Regions from separate parts of the Homo sapiens genome. Here region 1 is linked to region 2. Evidence: fine-mapped expression QTL. Tissue or cell type: caudate. Region 2 holds a variant in brackets; the other region holds the start of a gene. All regions are shown on one strand. Distances are between the middles of the regions.

Region 1 (4,399 bases), 59 kb after region 2:
CCACTCATTTCAAAGTTTGTGAATTTTCAGTATGAAGTAAAATATGTAAAAAAATCTTTTTATTCTATATTGTACACTATATTATGAAATAATAAAAACATCTAGGAAAAATTAGACATGTAACAACTTTAGAAGAAAAGAAGCATACACTTCTCTACTAAAAGTACAAAAAAATTAGCCGGGCATGGTCGTGGGCGCCTGTAGTCCTAGCTACTCCGGAGGCTGAGGCAGGAGAATGGCGTGAACCCGGGAGGTGGAGCTTGCAGTGGGCCGAGATCGCGCCACTGCAATCCAGCCTGGGCAACAGAGAGAGACTCCGTCTCAAAAAAAAAAAAAAAAATTAAGCATACACTTTTGAATGTAGGAGTCATATTTCAAACACAAAATGGTTGTATTTTCAAGGGAAAGTAAACTTTATAATTTAAAACATGGAAAAAGTGACATAAAATACATTTATAATCACAGAGTAAGAATAAAAAGGTGAAATCCACAGATTATTGACAATGTTCTGCAAAGTCATCTCTGTGTTCTTTCATCTAGTCCAGTTTTTAATGGCTTCAAAGGAGCATCTAAAGATATTTCTGGATAATTTTACTCTCATAAATAGGTAGATAGTAATGCTGGCATTCACTTATAAGTCTCAAACAGCAAAGTAAATAAAGCTTTTAAAGCATCTTCCTTCACTTTTCAATCGTTCTCTTCCTTAGTTCTGTTCCCTTCTCATAGTTTTCCTCTCCACTCATGTCCAGTTTCAAAATATTAAATATAAAACCTTTTCAACTCTTGTTCTTAGAAGAGAATTCCTGATGTTACAAGGAAGAAAGTAAGTCTACAACTATTAAGATTTCTGAGTTTTAATTCCGTAGCCACTTTGTAATGGCAAACTAAAATTTTAGGGACTGGGATGATCATGTTGTAAACTTAAGTGGTCATAAAAACAACTTTACTAATATTATTATTCCAGTGATTCCCGTTGATGCCTCCGATGGCTCGGGAAAGTTCTTACACCGCCCCTGTAGTATATGGAAAAGGAAAACAAAACAAAACACAAAACAAAAACAACAAAACCCTCAAAGCCTGTTTAAAATGGCTCGAAGTACCCTTTTAAAGACAGAACCCCAGAGAAAAACGCTGCCAATTCGTTGCTTTATTGTTCCCTGCCTGGGGACCTCAATAGCCTTTTCCATTAACCTTCCCTTCTTACGCAACGGTTAATGACTTTGGGGGTTGTTTTGCTTTCTGTTTCTGCTGAGTCACTAAATTTTGCCTCTTTGTCCCCAGGTGCTGCTCAGCATAAAAGTTAAAAGTGCAATTCAGGAAGTACTGGGATTCTGTGTAGAGCCGAGGAAACCATTTCCCTAAGAGAAGCTCTGTTCCTTGGCTTGTCCTTCCTTCCCGGGAAGGAAGCTTCCGAGGAACGAAGGGAGAAGCTTTGTTTTGCCTGCAGAAGCAGCCCTGTGCTCGGCTGAGGGTTCTCAGCTGGCTGTGAACTGCGGAGCATTGTAGGCGCCTGGCTGGCTCAGGCCAATGCAGAAGTCTCTCCCTTCTCCAAAGACCCAAATCCCCACAGAACCAGCTTCGAGTTACTTTCCCTTCAAGGGGATTAAAATAATTGTGATTTGTGGCGCTCTCCGTTCGCGGTGGTATTTTCCTGTTGTGTTAAATGCCTCTTATTAAGTAATAGATGTGATTTATGTGAACGACGAAGGGGTGTGTGGTGGATTCGGTGATTAATCAGTGAATTCCCATCCGCTGGCATCTCTCACTGCCCCTCTTGCGTGATGTAAGATCAGACGTACCCTGCATTGAAAAGTCAAGACACACGGGCGTCTCGCTCGCGCTCACACACGCTCTGCCTCCTCTCTCCCGCACGCGCGCATCCCTCCACCTTCCACATCCTGCTCCAGGCAGGAGAAGGCTGACTGGCTGGACTCATTGAGCTGAAGAATTTCCAGTGACATTTGTAAATGACGCCGCTCGATTCCAGGCTCCAAGCGGCCCCTGCCGCCGCCGCCGCCGCCGGGCCGAAGGTGCCGCCGAGCAGTCTCCAGCGCAGGCTTCCTTACCGGGCGACCACAATGTCCGAGTTTCTCCTCGCCTTACTCACTCTCTCGGGATTATTGCCGATTGCCAGGGTGCTGACCGTGGGAGCCGACCGAGGTAAGGAGAACACCTCCCCGCTCCCCTCCCCTGACTTCCTTGGCTTTCCTGCTGGGCGATGCTTGCAGATAAGTGAGTGTGAAACTTAAGTCCTTGCAGCTCCGCTCCCCGGGACCGGGTGACCACCGTGCGCTGGCCCTGTGCGGGGGTGAGAGGTGCGGTGCGGGATTTCTGAACCAAGTGCCTGAGTCCTCGGCACCCCCACAGCTTTTCCCTTTGGCCGTTTCCCGGTCCCCATTTTGTCCCCTCCGGGAGTGTGTGCACTTGGCTGTGCGCTTCTGTCCGCGAATTCTAAGCGCTGCAGATGTTGGAATGAGAATTCGCATTTCCGAAAGACTTCCCTCCGCGATGGCCCTCAACTGCGAGCTTTTGCGAGCTCCAGGTTCTCCGCGTTAAGCGTGTCCGCCCTCAACTTAGCTCCCAGGTTAACTTCCTTACCTGCTGCATTCGAGGTCCGTGGAGCGGCGAAAGCGCCGATTCAGGCCCCTTTCGTTTCTATAGCCCCTTCCTGGGGGCAGACTGGGGTCAGAGTCCTGTCATCAGCAGAGAGGCTTTTAGGACGATTCCGGGCGCACGCACCTGCTTGAAATTGACTTTTCGATTATGAGGGTCTGTGACACAGCCCAGGTGCTCTGAGGGGCTAACCCACCCCTGGAGTGCCTCTCTCCAGTCTGGCGCTTTGCTTTTCCTTTTTCTCCAAGCAGCTGGTGAATGGTAGAAGTTTAGAAGGGAATGGATATGGGGAGCAGAGGAGAAAGGAGGTAGGAATTAGAAAAAGCCGGGATTCTATAAACTTTTCATCTGGAAAATCAAGAATCCCTGTGCGAGTTTAATAATCTTTGACAACAGATGCACTGGTGAAAAAGGGAGGAAAATACTAGATGAATATTTGGGGCACTGGCCCTGGCCTTGGAATGGTTAACTGGTTAAAGTAAAATCAGAAGTATCATAGATTTTTTTAAAATCAGAAAATGAGCTTATATTGACTGGTATAGTTCAGCTTTTTAGTTTAAATAAGAGAGAGAGAGAGAGAGAGAGAGAGAGAGAGAGAGAGAGAGAGAGAAAGAGAGAAAGAAACCCAGATCCCAATGCCAAGCAAATAGGCAGAATGTTGCATTGGGAGATTTAGTTATTGTATTTACATGAAGCAGATTATGAATTGACAAAAAATATTGCTTCATTATAGGAAAGAACAGGGGAATGAACTGCAGTGTTTCTATTCAACCTGCTGTTGGCAGCCAGATTCTAGCCTTTGTAACATACCTACACGTGTTATTTCCTCTACCAGTGGTGGGACTAATCTGAGTTCCTTTAGGAAATCTGACACTTATTGGTGATAATCTTTTAAGCATATCATTGCCACCTAACCATAGCTTCTGAACTTGCTCAACTTGCCTTGAAGTTGGTGTGGAATGGTTGGAAACTATACTGATGAAATGGAAGCACATAGCTCGCCTTGAAATGATGATGTCTTTGATCTGGAACAATCAGCTCTCAACCTTTCTTAGGAAAAATGTTTGAAGTTGGACCAGAGCAGATGAACAGAATGGAGATTTTCAGCCCAGTATGCTAGCAAAATATAATGGTACTGGCAGACTACTGCTATTGGGCTCTTCCTGATTGAGTCTCCAATCTCCAGAAATTTGACTTCATCTAAAGCTGAGTTCTCAATGCTTTTGTATACATTTATGAGGATAGAACTACTGCTACCATGATTGGAGTAAATATCTGAAGAGAATTTTGTATAGAACATAAAAAATACAGACCCCACAACTTTCTTCTGAGATAGAATATTAAATAACTAAGAGGATTATATTTGGTGCCAATTTAGTTTCATGAGGGAGAGGAACATCTAAGATAGAAGCAGAGCACATGGTAAACGATTGCTAGTTTTTTTCTAAAAAATGAAATAGTGTCGTGTTGTATCACCACGTCCACATGAAGTACTATATCAGATAGCACAAGTAAAAATAATTGTAGACCAGCACTTTGCCACTATTATATATTTAACACACTTTCAAAACTGTTAGCAAAGAGCTAAAATTCTCACAGTTACCAAAAGTGAAAAGGATGGGCCCCATTTGGAAAAAGGAATTTTAAAGAGAGAAATCTTGTTGAAAGTTAAGAAAGAAAGTGTTACTGCATTATGACAAGCTTCCCTCACTAATATGCTGAAACAGAAGATATGGGAATATAAACTCAAGAAAGAGGTTAATGAGATGTAACTTTCTGCACAGGC
Region 2 (4,399 bases):
ACCTAAAAGAATTCCAAAATGAAAATGGAACATTAATTAAAACACAAATGAATATATTTGGTGTTATTTCAGTTTTAAGAATATACTTACCTTTACTGTAAGTCTCTCAGATTCTTATACTATGTCTTTTTCTCCAAGATGTTTCCAGAAGACTAGTTCTACCAGGAGTAGGAGGGTAGTAGGGAGTTTGAAAACAGCCACTATACTAGGTTATACCCGTTCTTCAATTTTAACAAATGTAACACTCTACCATGTACCTATTATTTCCTCAAGTTTTGTATTTTAAAATTAAAAAAAAATATGTTAACTGTTTCCAGATCCTTGAGGGTACCATTCATTAGTAGGTGAAAAATAAGTCAGCTCTCCTATAACATTGCAAAAATAAGAAACAGTGCACATGGTTGTAATTTGCATTGCTTGGGTGGATAGTGTACTTGCCATAATTCAACAATATAGAACTTTTTACAAATATCTAAGTGTCTATTTTCTAGTCAAAGTAATAAAAAAATGACTAAGCCCCTGGACCTAATAGTATAACATGAAGATAATCAACGAAAAGAGAACTAAAATGCTGCTTCAAGATGAATTGCTAGAAATGGCTTGGAATTTCAAGGCTGCCATTGTCATTATCAGTGAGATATCTGTTTATAGTAACCTTAAAGCTATCCAAGGAAATGCAACTATATAAGCAGAAGAGCATATAATAAGAAAAAATTGCCAGGCATAGGAAAAAAATCTCTTTCATAAAGAAGATTTTATTTGTTACTGATAATGATCGTATTTGTTTCCCACAGCATGATCCACATATGAAAGTAAGTTAAAAGATAATGAATTGTAAGGAAAAGAAAGACATTTGTACCTACTTATGCTGCCAATAGCTTTCCTTGGGTGGAGAGTGGTACCTCTATTTACGCTTAAGATTCAAACAAACTGCATCACAAATTGTCATAAAATACATATGCTCAGGATATAATGTTTTGAAAAGCTGCATTTCTCAAATCACTGCTACCAAATGCTGTATCAGTCATGATTCAGACCAGGAAACAGAAAGCACTCTTGGAATTCAAGCAGGGAGAGATTTACTGATTAAGGGTTTCAAAAATCAGAGGAGCTGGAGGAGTTGGAATCAGGGGAGTTACAACCGGACTACTAATTTCAAGGTCATACTGCCATAGCTGTGATGTAGAGGTCAGGAAGCTCTACTGCTGCTGGCTTAGATATCACTGCCACAGGCTTTCAAACCCCTAGAGCTGATGTCTTGCATTGGCATGCAGAGTGTAAGCATGCCAACCCTCTCTTCTGTCTGACATTGCTTTGCTGCAGTCACCAACAGGAATAAGGCCACTGCTTTGCTTCTGACTCGAAAGTTTGCATACAACTGTTAGCTAGAAGGGAATATGGGCAAAGTAAAAGGAAAGTGTAATAGAGAGATTGAGAGAGCTAGGCCAAGTAGTGTTCCTTAAACTTTTACCCCTTGCCCCAAAATGTTAAAGAAAACAACTCTGAATCTAAAAGATTTTTTAAAAATAACTTACTTTGTAAATTGCACTGATATGCACTAATTTGATATTAAAATCTTTCTGAGCTGATTGTGAGGCTGTGTTTTATCTTCATTTATCCTACTACATGTGAATATTTATATGATTCTCTGCATAAATATCAAGTTATTTGAATACAAGGTGACCTGACCCTCTGAGGGTGTTATGAACTATACAGTAGAAATTACACCAAGTATCAGAATGTCAAATATCAGATTGTCAAATCAGACTTACATGCACTGGAAATCTTAACCAATATCATCTTACCTGACACCAATCTTTACTAATAACTTCAATAATAGAAGGAATGCAAGGCAAAGGAAAATCAGAGAGTTGTCTGGGAGCTCCAATGTAGCTACTTACTTCTTTTCTTACCATTTTATATATTCTGGACCTAGGTTGTCATATCCTTTAAACATGTGTGCAGTTATACATTTAAATTATAAAACATGTCTAATGTAAAATAAGCTAAATCGCTTATGTGATAT[C/A]GTCCAGGGAACTTTACCAATAAATCTATATATTCTAGATTTATGTACCATAATCAATCGTAGACAACCAGGTTCATCATAGTGAAAGTATTGCATAAATGATTATTCTAACACAAACAAATGCCATTAGCGTGTTACCAAAGACATTCATAATTCATATGTTTACAAGAAGATTTGACAGTTTTTTGTCTTGATGATTTCCCCAAATCCTCCATCCTTAATGATAGAGGGAATAAACTGTAGGCCAGTTCCACGTTCATTTTCTTCTAAAGGTATTTGCATTATAGTACCTTTTTAAAATCTGAAACACTCTGAATTCTGAAGTTCATCAGGCCCCAGAGGTGTAGGAAAGGCAGTTTTGGACCTATATCTACCACAGTGCATTTATTTGCTTTTCAATGACTACATGCATTCTTCCACACATATTTCATCTTCTACACAGCAATGACATTCTTCCATCTAACCTAAGACATTTATTCTTTGTATAAATAAGGATCTTCTCATAATCTTAAAATGGGAGGCTTAAAGTTGAATTACTCATTGTATGCATCTTTGGGTTTATCCTCTAGGAACTCAAGTGTTGCTACCAGATTTTAAAATTGGACTCTGCCTCTTACTTTTTAGGAACTCTTTTCATTCTGGTTGCTTTATCTCTGGGTTGGCTTAGATTAGTGGCTCCCAATTGGGGTACGCTCTCGTGAAAGTAACACTGTGCGTCTATGAGCTACTTCAACATATTAAGAAGTCTACTGTGGTATTTCCTAAACATGGTTAATATATTGATAACTTAAGATGTTTCCTTAAAAAATTCAACTTTTTTGGCTGTACTTTGGTCTTACTAAGTCAGAATACCTTAGCAAGTACTAGAAATTTATATGTTTATTCAACTCCATGGGTAATCCTCATACACAGCATAATTTAAGGACTATTAGTCTAGTGGAATCATGTGTACGTTTGTGTGTGTGTATATATATATATATATATGCCTAAATTTACTAAAATGGTAATTATGTTTGTTTTAATTTGGAATTATAGTGAATTATGTGTGCTAACCTCATATTAAAAGATAAAATTATAACAAATTTAGTTATGGATCGAATTGGATTTTATTTGCAATTTATGAATCAAGACAGCTACATCCTACAAAACAGAATGTGAACTCTCACTGGGAAATCACAGAAGAGTGGATTTTGTAAGGTGAGAAAGAAACAGAACAAAGGAAAATAGTTGATTGGTTAACACTAGGTTACTTGAGTTAGTTTTTGGTAAGGGTTAAAACAGAGGGATCTTCCTTATGATGCTGAGTCATGTAGACTGGAATCTGCTGTTCTCAGGAAAAACTGTGCTGTTTGGGATCTATTTGCTTCCTAAAAGTTGCAGTTTGCTTATGTGACATTTAGCATGAGTGACTCCATTTTGGTTTGATCTGGTCTGATGGGGTCTGGTGCAAGATCGCAGTGCAAGAGCTCAGTCCAAGACAATGGCCTCCTATAATTGTGTTTAACATCTATTTTATTTTATTTTCAATTTCAATTTTTATTGAGCACATAGATGGCCAGATTACCTAGATGCTAAGAATACAGAGATGTAGAAAACACAGCTTTGCTCAAAAAGCTTGTGTGGATAAACACGCAAGTAAACCAAAAATTATTAAGTGTCTTCAGGACTTTAGCAGACATATGTCCCAGGTGATACAGGAGTATAGAAGAGGGATTAAAACCCATCTATTTGGCAGTTCAATATACCTTTGAGTAATAATACAAAAATAAGAAAATAAATTTGAAAATTGGAGCATTTTTAGTCAACCAAACAATCATTCAGTAACAGGAACATTTAATTAAAAAAGAAAAAATAATTCAGTGTTAAAACGTTGTTTTGTTGTTGTTTTCTGTTTGTTTGTTTGTTTGTTTTGTTTTGTTTTATTTTGAGATGGAGTCTCGCTCTGTCACCCAGGCTGGAGTACAATGGCATGATCTCGGCTCACTGCAACATCCACCTCCTACGTTCAAGCAATTCTCCTGCCTCAGCCTCCCGAGTAGCTGGGATTACAGGTGCCCACCACCATGCCAGGCTAATTTTTGTGTTTTTAGTAGAGACGGGGTTTCACGCTGTTGGCCAGGCAGGGTCTTGTACTCCTGACCTCAGGTGATCTGCCCACCTTGGCCTCCCAAAGTGCTGGGATTATAGGCATGAGCCATAGTGCCCAGCCTAAAACATGTTTTTATATTCACTTGACTATATGATGATTATAAATTCTTGCCAAGAGCTAATAGTCAATAATTTCATGATTTTACATTTTTCTTGTAGAAACACTTAATCATTCTCTCCCACAGGTAATTGATTTGATGTATGATAAATTGGTTAATTGGTTGT

Direction of the effects. Positions count from the first base shown, and alleles are read on the strand shown. Sizes are in standard deviations (SD) of each study's normalised expression.
In carriers of allele A in region 2, the expression in caudate of the gene that starts at base 1,792 in region 1 tends to be lower than with C alone (small effect, 0.22 SD a copy in GTEx).

What was found. PIP is the estimated chance that this variant, and not a neighbour inherited with it, causes the effect.
Region 1: it holds the start of LRP1B, and the variant in region 2 is the best candidate, but not a certain one, in a credible set for the expression of LRP1B in caudate (GTEx, PIP 0.85).

What each region holds. Positions count from the first base shown.
Region 1 is chr2:142,128,409-142,132,807 of GRCh38, reverse strand. It overlaps LRP1B (LDL receptor related protein 1B), which reads left to right and starts at 1,792. Exons shown (of 91, transcript NM_018557.3): 1 at 1,792-2,160. The coding sequence starts at 2,079. RefSeq lists an enhancer at 725-1,924.
Region 2 is chr2:142,187,761-142,192,159 of GRCh38, reverse strand. No RefSeq gene overlaps it. Among named protein-coding and RNA genes, the nearest start is that of LRP1B, 59 kb to the right of the region's middle. The variant C/A (reference allele first, on the strand shown) is at 2,027.